Homo sapiens: one gene and its partners. The protein of the gene in region 3 interacts with the protein of the main gene of each other region in a pairwise test. Each region holds a gene or a part of one and is shown on either strand. Other genes may lie near its edges. The genes, in order: ZNF296, ZNF497 and GRN.

The links.
Region 1: the proteins of GRN (region 3) and ZNF296 interact in binary tests that used the Homo sapiens proteins (3 or more experiments, as listed by UniProt).
Region 2: the proteins of GRN (region 3) and ZNF497 interact in binary tests that used the Homo sapiens proteins (3 or more experiments, as listed by UniProt).

The regions. Positions count from the first base shown.
Region 1 is NC_000019.10:45,074,345-45,078,088, forward strand, and holds the start of ZNF296 (zinc finger protein 296), read right to left. Parts: upstream 2,135-3,744; 5' UTR 2,030-2,134; coding exon 1,732-2,029; intron 1,519-1,731; coding exon 1,369-1,518; exon of another isoform or gene 1,283-1,368; intron 1-1,282. UniProt on the Homo sapiens protein: May be a transcriptional corepressor with KLF4.
Region 2 is NC_000019.10:58,360,615-58,364,358, reverse strand, and holds the start of ZNF497 (zinc finger protein 497), read left to right. Parts: upstream 1-1,607; 5' UTR 1,608-1,682; exon of another isoform or gene 1,683-1,733; intron 1,734-3,744. UniProt on the Homo sapiens protein: May be involved in transcriptional regulation.
Region 3 is NC_000017.11:44,348,158-44,351,901, reverse strand, and holds part of GRN (progranulin precursor), read right to left. Parts: intron 2,745-3,744; 5' UTR 2,738-2,744; coding exon 2,600-2,737; intron 2,477-2,599; coding exon 2,351-2,476; intron 2,236-2,350; coding exon 2,151-2,235; intron 1,675-2,150; coding exon 1,562-1,674; intron 1,461-1,561; coding exon 1,325-1,460; intron 1,212-1,324; coding exon 1,102-1,211; intron 866-1,101; coding exon 739-865; intron 540-738; coding exon 442-539; intron 353-441; coding exon 107-352; intron 1-106. UniProt on the Homo sapiens protein: Secreted protein that acts as a key regulator of lysosomal function and as a growth factor involved in inflammation, wound healing and cell proliferation. Regulates protein trafficking to lysosomes, and also the activity of lysosomal enzymes.

The DNA of each region.
Region 1 (3,744 bases), on a different chromosome or scaffold from region 3:
AGTAAGACTCCACCTCAAAATAATGGGGTAGCTACAGAGAAAGCTTAGCGGCCACCTAGTAAAGAGGTGGTAGTGACCTGGGTCCCCCACCCTCTGCATGGATCTCAAATTGAGCCCCCAAACCTGAATTTGGATTTCTATCTGGACCTTCGGGGTACTCTCAGTGGACACTTCCTAGGTGAACTAGCCTTTCCATTTTTCAAATTCTAGAGTCTTGGATGGGACAACCTTTGTGATACAACCAGTCCTGGGTCAAGAGCACAGGCCTGCATTCAAATTCAGACTTCTCTGCTCCCTAATTGTGTGACCTTGGGCAAGACATAGTCCTCTGTGTGCCTCAGTTGCTAGAATTCAGGGACCCTAGAGATCCCCTCCCTTTCAAGGGTGGTTGTGACCTCGCTTGGGGAATGGTTGAGAGCTTTGGTCCACATAAGCGCTCAAACAGCAGAGCCTGTGAAACCAAGGTGCCCATGATTCTCCAAGCCCTGTAGTGTTTTGTTCCAGCGATTCCATCACAGCCCCTCGCTCGCTCCTCCAGGCCACTCTCCATGCTCCAGCTCTAAAGCTGATTCAATCAGTCACAAGCCCCTCCTCTTTCCCACCACCAGACCCTCCCTGGCCCAACCCTAAATAATTCCACTTCTCAAAAGTCTCAGAAGGGCAAGGGCCAGGGGGCTGGAAACTAGGTTTGGATTAAGCCCTGCAGCCAACACTGACCAAAAGCTCACCGAGGGTCAAGCCCCATGTGAAGGCTTTTAATTCCCTCCCAAGAGAAGGAACCCGGGTGTCCAGCACCCGGGAGCTCGCTCAAACCAGGGGATTCCCAGCACGCGGGGCTGGGAGATTCCATCACCGAGGGAAGCCAGAAGCCCCTTCCTTGGCTCTGAACACTCAGCTGTACTAGCACCTCAATCAGAATTGACAGAGAGAGACAGGAGGGGGTGGCAACCTCCCCATTCCAGCTGGCCTCCACTCCCCCTCCCCCCGGCCGCTGCCCTCCCTAGAGGTCCCCTCCTACTGCCACCCTGGTCCAGCCACCTGGCCAGTTATTTCTGGCCAAGGGGAAGGAGAAGTGAAACCAGGTTGGGGTGTGTGTTGGGGGGGGCAAAATCCCGGGCTAGTCTTCTGGGGCTGGCCACACCCTGTAGGCGGCCCTCCTTCCCTGCCCAGTCCCCCCCCGCCCCCCCTCCACCGCCACCACTGGTCCCTGCCCTAGGACGGGCAGGCCCTGGCCACGCCTAGGCTGCACCCGATGGGGAGCGAGAAAGGGGAAGTAGTGCTCAGTGCCCTGCCGTCCAGCCCAGCCCCTTTCCAGCAGGAAGCCCAGCCCTCGAACTTGAGAGGGGGACTGCACCCGGCTTTACTCACCTGAGCCCTGGCCGCGGCTGGGGCCTCTGAAGAGCTGACAGCCCAGCTTCTTGTGGTCCATGAAGGCAGTGATGGCCTCCAACGGGAAGGTCTGCAGGCAGCGGCCGCAGGTCAACAGATCTGGGTGTTTGTCGGTCCAGGGCTGGCGGTCTGCAGGGAGGAAGCGGGTGGTGAGCGTGGGGTGGGGCCAGGATGGGGGCTGAGGGTGCTGAAGGAGAGGGGAAACCGAAGGTCAGAAGGGGGCCTGAGGGGCAGGACGGGGCGAAGGAGATAAGGCAGGGCGAGGGGCCCATGCCCAAAGGGAAGGGTCCCACCCGAGGGTCAAAGGTAAGGGAGGCTGGGCCCAGGGCCCGGGGTGCTCACCGGGATAGTTCGGGGTCAACGGCGTCCACAGGGTCCACGGGTTCCGCGGGCCGAGGGCGAGGAGGGCGGCCCCGGCGGGCATGGGGCCAGGGGAGTGGTGGGGTTCGCCGCCGAACCGCCCCGCCGAGGACACCTCCTTCGGGGAGAAGGGCCCCAGCCTTGGGGCCTGTTGGGGCTGCGCGTCTGGCTCGGGCTTGAGTTCGATGACGAGGTCCTGCATTTCCATCTCGTCGTCTGGGTTGGCGGCGGGCGCGGGCTCTACTCGGCGGGGCGCGCTGCCGGCCTTGCGGCGGGACATGAGTCGCGGGCCGGGCGAGCGAGCGGGCGGGCAGGCAGGCAGGCGGGCGGGCGGAGGACGCACGAGCGGAGGACGCGCGGACCGTGCGCGCTCAGGTGAGTGACTGCGGCGACCCGCCGCGAACTCTTACACGTGCTGGCCGGGCCCGTGGCTCCGCCTACCAGGGCGGGGCTCATGGGAGGGGACCGAGCCGCCCTGCTGGGGCCCTGACGGCGGCCTAACTCAATCTAGGCAGTGTCCCGTGCGTTTGGCTTAGTGACCAAATTTAATCACACCGAGTTCCCACAAGGCATTGAAACAGCTATCCCTGATCCCGTTTTAGGGCGGGTGAAACTGAGACACGGCATGCCCACACGCACCCCCAAGCGAGAAAAATAGTCGGTCACGTTTCTTATTAGGTGCCTGATAGTAATCTGGGCTATTTCATTAAATGCATTACAATAAAAATTCATTTTGCAAGCATTCACTGAGTGCCTCCTGTGCGCCAGGCTCTGTTTGAAGCCCTGAGAATACAGGAGGGAATAAACAGAAGATAATCTTTGTTTGCACGGAGTTCAGACGGTGGGGGAAGACACTATAAACATAATTACGTAAAATATAGATGGCCCTTCATGATGACCAGTGCCATGGAGCAAAAGAAAGCTGGAAAGGCGGAGAGGGTTACTGGGGTTGAGGGATTCAATTTTCTCCCCTATGATGGGAAAGGGCATGGTGGAGCTGAGGCTGGAGGGAAGGAAGCCCAGCCAGTGGGCCTGGGCATTGAGGAATTACAAGGAAAGGGAGAGGCAATACGGGTTGGGGATTGAGTTCAGTGAAAATATGGGGGCAGATCCAAGCAATCTTTTGATCGCTTTAAGGTCTTTTGGTTTTCCTGAGACCGGAGCCTTAGGAGGGTTTTGAGCAGAGGAGGACTGTAATCATACACATCGACTCTGTTCCTAGACCAGAAGTCGCCATTAAAACCAAATAGCCAAGCAGCTCACCTGCCTCCACTCCGCCTCCTTGAACTTCCCTCCCCTAAGCAGTTCTGTCTGCTCACTGTTTGAAGTGGCATCGACACCCTGCCCCACCCTCAATCCCTGATGAGTATTCTTTTCTTCCTGGCACCGACTGCACGACAGTATAGAACGGCTTGTGGACTGTCCTCTCCCCCACCCAATGCAAGCCCCCTGAGGTCAGGGCAAGAACCTGTCCTCCCCCAGCTGTCCTCAGCCCAGATGCTGATTTCAGATGCTGATCTCTTGGAGTTCTGCACATTGTTATTCAGGTCTGGGTTCCATTGTCCTCCTGAGAGCAGAGGGCCCTGACCAACAGTATCTAAAGTAGCCCCACCCTGCTGAAGGCCTTGCAAATTACACTCCATGACCTCCATCTGTCCCCAGTTCCCTCTTGGATCTCACTTTCTCCATCTGTCAAAGGAGGTAGGGCAGGTTGGAACTAGAGGGTTATCTGAGGTGGTTTCTTCTTCACTGCCGCCTCCTCTGATCACCCTTTTTTTTTTTGTAATTTTTAATTTTTCAAAAAAAATTATTTTTAAATAGAGACAGGGACTCGCTTTGTTGCCCTGGTTGGTCTGAAACTCTTGGCTTGAAGCGCTCCTCCTGCTTCAGCATCCCAAAGTGCTGAGATTACAGGTGTGAGACACTGCACTCAGCCTCAGACCACCCAATTTTAAGTTCCATGGCAACCCAGCCACCCACTATCCCATTGCCCTT
Region 2 (3,744 bases), on a different chromosome or scaffold from region 3:
GAAACTAACACACCATCCCTCAGTTCTGCTTTTCTGTATGGACTCCATTCTCTTAACAGATTCATCCTTCAGCGGGGCAAGAAGGCTGCAGCTGCCCCAGCTGACAGATGCTCACAGCCTCAGGTTCAAAGCAGATAGAGGCCCTAACAGTTCAGAGAGAAGTCCCACGATGCTCACAGGTCCAAAGTGACCACTGCCAGGGCCAGAGGGATGGACTGCCCTGTGCTGTGGACCTGGGCCATGTACCCACACCTGCCCAAACCACCTGGGCTGAGGTGAGAGCTCCCTAGTACAAATTGGGAAAAATTGGTACAAAAAGAGCTCGTGGAGGCCGGGTGCAGTGGCTCGGGTCTGTAATCCTAGCACTTTGGGAGGCCAAGGTGGGAGGATCACTTGAGCCCAGAAGTTCAAGACCAGCCTGGGCCATATAGCGAGACCCCGTCTCTAGCTATTCATTTATTTTAGCTTACAGCATCTGGTCTATGTTGTTTTTTGAGACGGAGTCTTGCTCTGTCACCCAGGCTGGAGTGTGCAGTGGCACGACCTCAGCTCACTGTAACTTCTGCCTCCCCGGTTCAAGCGATTCTCCTGCCTCAGCCTCCCGAGTAGCTGGGATTATAGGCACACGCCAACAAGCCTAATTTTTGTATTTTCAGTAGAGACGGGGTTTCACCATGTTGGTCAGGCTGGTCTCGAACTCCTGACCTCGTGATCTGCCCGCCTCGGCCTCCCAAAGTTCTGGGATTACAGGCGTGAGCCACCGCGCCCGGTTTATTTATTTATTTTAGCCAACAGCACTCGGTGTTCCCAGACGGTCTCCCAAGTACTAACCAGGCCCGACCCTGCTTAGCTTCTGAGATCCCGACTCAATTTTTTTTTTTTTTTTTTGAGACGGAGTCTCGTTCTGTCGCCCCAGGCTGGAGTGCAGTGTCGCGATCTCGGCTCACTGCAAGCTCCGCCTCCCAGGTTCAAGCGATTCTCCTGCCTCAGCCTCCCGAGTAGCTGGGACTACAGGCGCCCGCCACCACGCCCGGCTAATTTTTTGTATTTTTAGTAGAGACGGGGTTTCTCCGTGTTAGCCAGGATGGTCTCGATCTCCTGACCTCGTGATCCGCCCGCCTCGACCTCCCAAAGTGCTGGGATTACAGGCGTGAGTCACCGCGCCCGGCCCCCGACTCTATTTTAAAAACCGCGTGGATTCCAGCTTGGTGGGTGTTCCACAGCGCGTGGGTGTGAGACGCAGCTCAGTGGCGTCAACTCAGCAAGGTTCCAGGGTGGTAAAGACGGCCTGGGGCCGGAGGAGGACCGCCAGGGAGAAGCTACGTTGGCCCGACTTGCGTCCGCGACCCGGGCAGCCCCAGGCGCCTGTGTAGCTGTTGGGTGTGTGCCGCAGAGGCTGGCCGGGTGCAGGAAGGGGCGGAGCGCATCCATGGCAACGCAGGACGCCCGAGTAGCTTGGCTGTGGCGCCGTCCCCATGGGAACCAGAAGGCGCGCGCCCGCAGCCGCGGCATAGTTACGCAGGCGCAGTGGGGAGAAACGCGACGCCTTGGGCCGCTCTGCCGAATGCAACCGCGCCCCCAGGAGACCCGGTGCCCGCCCTCCTACCATTCCACGCGGCTCGAGCCCGCGTGCGGGCCTCTTTCAGGCCGCTCCTAGTGGACGCAGAGGCGGGCCGAGGACGGTGAGTGACGCCGACGGACACCCTCGGCCAGGCACAGATCCGCCCTCCGGCTCCAACCACTCCCGCCGCGCGGGGCAGGACGGGCCTCGGCCCTGAGCTGGGCCCTCTGGGACCACCGAGAGATAGGCCTCCGCGCCGTCCAGAGCGGCCCGGAAGTGGCCCTGCACGGGCCAGAGGCGACCGTGGTCGGGACGGAAATGGCTCCCGTTTGCTGTTCTCTCGGTGAACGCGAGCCTTATGGCGATCAGTTCTGTGGCATCGTTCCTCCTGCTCGTTTATTCTTTCACTCATTCACTCATGCCCTGCCGCGCCATCATTTCTTCCCACATTCATTTATTCGTTCATCAGTCCCCAGCCCCGGGTAGTTTCGGAGCTCACCAGGCTGGGCTCGCCTCCCAGCCTCCGGAGCTGCCCGCACAGGCCTCGCGCCACCTGGCCGCAGCTTCCTCCCCTTTATCCACTCCGTATTTGTTTGTCCAGCCTAGGCCTTGGGGGTTGTGGGGGAGACACAAGTACCCGTGACTGGTCGGACAAGTGCCCGTTGTTGGGGGCGTGGGCGCTGGGACTGACGCGGGAGGTGGCTCTGATCATGTCGAGGTGAGGAGGAGGCGTTGAGGCTCAGAAAGGGCACGCAGCGTGGACGTGAGGACGTCGGGGAGGCTGGAGCAGTGAGGCCGACAGGAAGGACCTTACGGGGCTCACATGCTATCCCACGACGAGGACGGACTCAGGACGGCAGCCCTGATAGATGCGGCTGGGGGCTGGCGGGTCGGGGTCGCACACCACAGGATGGAGGGGCAGCGGTGCCTGGCTCCGCCTTAAGAAACATGGGCCCTTGGGGGACCCGGATTTCTGATACTTCAATACACAAATATGGATTTTTATTGAAATCAGATGTCGTTTTTTTAAAATTTAACTTTTGATTTGAGGTAATTATAAATTCACATGCAGTAACAAGTAATGCATACCCTATGTACGCTTTACCCAATTCCCCTAAAGGTGGCATCTTGAAAAACTAGAGGCCAGGTGCGGTGGCTCATGTCTGTAATCCCAGCACTTTGGGAGGCCAAGGCGGGTGGATCCCTTGAGCTCAGGAGTTAAAGACCAGCCTGAGCAACATGGTGAAACCCCATCTGTACTGAAAACACAAAAATTAGGCGGGTGTGGAGGCTGGTGCCTGTAATCCCAGCTACTCGGGAGTCTCAGGCAGGAGAATCGCTTGTACCCAGGAGGCGGAGGTCGCGGTGAGCCCACATCACGCCACTGCACTCCAACCTGGGCAACAGAGCGAGACTCTGTCTCAAAAAAAGAGAAGAGAAAGAAAAACTAGAGTACAATATCACAACTGAGATGCAGAATATTTCCATCACGAAGGATCCCCGTGTTGCCCTTACAGAGCCGCATACCCTTCCCTCCTACCTCTGCTCCCCGTTAACCTCTTTTTGTCAACTAGTAATCTGTTCTCATTTCTACCATTTTGTCATTTTACGAATGTTGCATAGGCTGGGCGAGGTGTCTCGCGCCTGTAATACTAGCACTTTGGGAGGCCGAGGCGGGTGGACCATCTGAGGTCAAGAGTTCAGGACCGGCCCACCGGCCGGGTGCCGTGGCTCACGCCTGTAATCCCAGCACTTTGGGAGGCTGAGGCGGGCGGATCACGAGGTCAGGAGATCGAGACCATCCTGGCTAACACGGTGAAACCCCGGCTCTACCAAAAATATAAAAAAATTAGCCGGGCATGGTGGCAGGCGCCTGTAGTCCCAGCTACTTGGGAGGCTGAGGCAGGAGAATGGTATGAACCCGGGAGGCAGAGCTTGCAGTGAGCCAGGATAGCGCCACTGGACTCCAGCCTGGGCGACAGAGCAAGACTCTTCTCAAAAAAAAAAAAAAAAAAAAAAAAAAAAAAAAAGAGTTCGGGACCAGCCTGGCCAACATGGTGAAACCCCATCTCTACTAAAAAATAAAATAAAATAAAATAAAATAAGCCAGGCCTGATGGCAGGCATCTGTAATCCCAGCTACTGGGGAGGCTGAGGCAGGAGAATCGCTTGAATCCTGGGGGC
Region 3 (3,744 bases):
AATCTGTCAGAGCTGGGTATCACCTATGGGCTATGCGGAGGGCAGAAAGCAATAGGAGCTTGGCCACCCACCTGCCCAGGCCAAGATGCTGTCCCCTCCCATATACCTCTGGGATTGGACAGCAGCCCCACTCCCCAGACGTGAGTTGGCAGCAGGTATCGGAGGAGGGACAGCTGCTGACATTATCACAGGGGACATCTCTCTTCAAGGCTTGTGGGTCTGGCAGGCTGAGGTGAGCTGGGGCCTTCTCCATCCAGGGCACCTGGTGGGGCCCCTGTTCACAGGTACCCTTCTGCGTGTCACACGTAAACCCCGCGGGACAGCAGTGTATGTGGTCCTCACAGCACACAGCCTAGGGCAGATGAAGAAGGGCAGGTGGGCACTGGGGCCCGGCTGCCTGCCACACTGTGCTCAGCCCACCCACCCGCCACCCCTGGGTACCTGGGTAAAAGGGCAGCAGCCCCAGGCCCCCGACTGTAGACGGCAGCAGGTATAGCCATCTGGGCAGCTCACCTCCATGTCACATTTCACATCCCCCACTGTGAGGGAAGCAGAGAGGACAGGTCAGAAGTGGCACTGGGGACCCTCAGGGGTATCAACCCTTTGCCGGCTCCACAGCTGGAACCAGGTGTTGAAGATGGAGGGTACCGCTTACACCACCTTGCAGTGATCCTAAGGCCAGGCCTAAAAGGGAGGAAAGGGGGCCCCACCCCTGTATCTGCACCCTGCCTCTGGTACCTGTGTGCGCAGGCAGCTTAGTGAGGAGGTCCGTGGTAGCGTTCTCCTTGGAGAGGCACTTACTCTGGATCAGGTCACACACAGTGTCTTGGGGGCAGCAGTGCAGGTGATCGGAGCAGCAGGTGGCCTGAGTGGGGACAGGGGTGGGTCTTTGTCACTTCCAGGCTCAGTAGCACACAGGGAGCAGCCAGGCTGATGGCTGGCACTGCCCCAATCCCCCACTAGGGGGTAGCATGAACCCTGCATCAGCCAGGCTCCCAGCAAGCAGCCAGCCAGCCCCATGCCACAGAGCCCCTGTAAGGTGCGTGTCAGGGCCAGGTGGCTGGGGGCACACAGCCAAGCTGGCTCCAGCCCCTCACTCACGTTGGGCATTGGGCAGCAGCCATACTTCCCACTGGGCAGCTCACAGCAGGTAGAACCATCAGGGCACCGGGACCGTGCGTCCGGACACATGACCGAGCTGGACAAGGCCACTGGAAGAGGAGCAAACGTGAGGGGCAGCCAGGATGGAGGAAACTTTTTCCTACACTTGGAGTCAATGAGGCCCCGCCCCAGCCCCTGGCCTGATGCTCTCCCACCTCCTCACCTGCCCTGTTAGTCCTCTGGGCAGGGAGCTTCTTTGCCAGGGGGTGGGTGCCCGTGGGTGTGATGCAGCGGGTGTGAACCAGGTCGCAGAAGGCACCGTGCGGACAGCAGTGCACCCTGTCTTCACAGCAGGAAGCCTGAGAAAAAATGGTCCTGACTCCGTCTTCACCCCCTGCCCCTGGCCCCCAACTCTGCCCCCACTTCCCTCCACATACCCCCATCTCCCCCAGATTTGTACCTGGGGCATGGGGCAGCACCCCCAGGAGCCATCGACCATAACACAGCACGTGGAGAAGTCCGGGCATTCGAACTGACTATCAGGGCACTGGATGGCACCCACGGAGTTGTTACCTGTGGACAAGATGACCCAGGATACTACCAGCCCACTCAGGGAAGGTGACTCCCCCATCACACAAGGAGCTGGTGGCACCAGGGCCTGCAAGCCCAGCTACTGGGGTTTGAGGGTGACACTAAGGCTCAGTGATCTCCTAGGCAGGCCTAACTCACCCTCCTCACAATCCAGTCCCTCCCTCAGCAAGATGGCATGGGGAAGGGGCACCCACTGACCATGGGTTGGTATTAGACCGGCCCAGCTCGACCTCTCCCCACCCCCACAACGCCTGGACCTGGAGTCTTGCACTTTCTCCCGCACCCTCCTATCCCCAGTGCTGCCCCTCTGTCCACAGCAGGGCTGTTGCTTAGTACAGATGCCACATGAATGAGGGCACAAGGGCAGGAATCAGGGCTGCCCCCGCCAGCTGGGCTCCTGGGTTCCAGACTCCACATGCTGCCCGTCTGCCTGCCCTGCACCCACACCCCAGCTGCACCTGATCTTTGGAAGCAGGATCGCCCGTCTGCACTGCAGTGGAAGCCCCGTGGGCAGCAGTGATGGCCATCCCCGCATGCCACGGCCTGTGGAACACAGAGAAACCTGCATTGGCAGGGCCCTTTTATCTGCAGGTGGTAGAGTGCAGGAAAAGCATAAATGCAGACCTAAGCCCCTCCACTGGGCTGATGGCACGCTCACCTCTGGGAAGGGGCAGCAACTGGAAGTCCCTGAGACGGTAAAGATGCAGGAGTGGCCGGCAGAGCAGTGGGCATCAACCTGGCAGGGGCCACCCAGATGCCTGCTCAGTGTTGTGGGCCATTTGTCCTAGAAAGACAGGGAAAATGATAAACCACAGACTTGTGCCTGGCGTCCTCCTCTGGCCAATCCAAGATGACCCTTTGGGAAAACCCAGGCTGCCAGCTCTTGCCTAGGCTGAGGGGCACTCACCAGAAGGGGACGGCAGCAGCTGTAGCTGGCTCCTCCGGGGTCCAGGCAGCAGGCCACAGGGCAGAACTGACCATCTGGGCACCGCGTTCCAGCCACCAGCCCTGCTGTTAAGGCCACCCAGCTCACCAGGGTCCACATGGTCTGCCTGCAAAGTACCAAGGAACGTCTGGCAACTGCTTAAGCCCACGCCACCCTTGATTCTAGGGTCACTCAGTACCCTAGCCCCAGGCCAAGGTCCTGGCCCAGGACTGCCTGAGCCTTCTCAACACCTCCCTGTCCAGGCAGGCAGAAATCTGCAGGGGCTGAGAGTCAGCTTCCTACAGCGCCCCGTGTGTGACACTTGCCCCAGCATGTGCGGACCTGTAAGCATGAATGCTGACATGCGTATATGTGTGGGTCTGAGTCCCCAGCACATGGCCTAATGCCTGGGCCTCACTGGGCAGGCTTATGAGAGTCAGGAAGACGTGATTTTTGTGGGTCTGATCTGTGCAGATGTGGGCCACCTCTGGGGTGAGGGGAAGGCATCAGTAGCCATGGGAGAGGACAGGGCTAGGGTGCAGGGAGGGAGTCCCCCCAGGAAAAGCCAGGGTTCCCCTCCAGATGCCTCCTTGCCTGACACTATGTTCATACCTGCACCCCGCTAAGGCCTTGCGGGAAGCGGCCACATGATGACATGGGAAACCACAGGGGTGAGAAAGTTGTGAAAAAGGAAATATGGTGGCCAGTGGAGTCTGGGCTGCCTTCCCCAGAGGTCACCATCTGCCCATGAATGTCCCCTCCTCACCCAGAGAAAAGGACACAGAAGCTGGGTCAGCCCTTGAGACACCTGTGTTCTGAGGGTCCCCCACACCACCAGGGCCCTCTGAGATTCCTCAAGCATGCTAAACCCTGCCCTTGCCTCTCCATCTATTCTGGAAGTGAAACTCAGCCACATGTGGAGAGAGACCACGTGTGCCCACTGGGCTGCCCATCTGAGTCACCAGGAGGAACTGAGCCTTGAGTCTCTGTGGAGAGCAGCCTCTCACTTCCTAAACAACTCTTCTCCCAGGCTCAGCTAGCCCAGCTAGTTCAGTGGGGTGGCCAGAGAGGTAACTCATAATGAAGAAGCAAAAACAGTAATGTCTGTTGAGCCTCTTGGGAGCCAG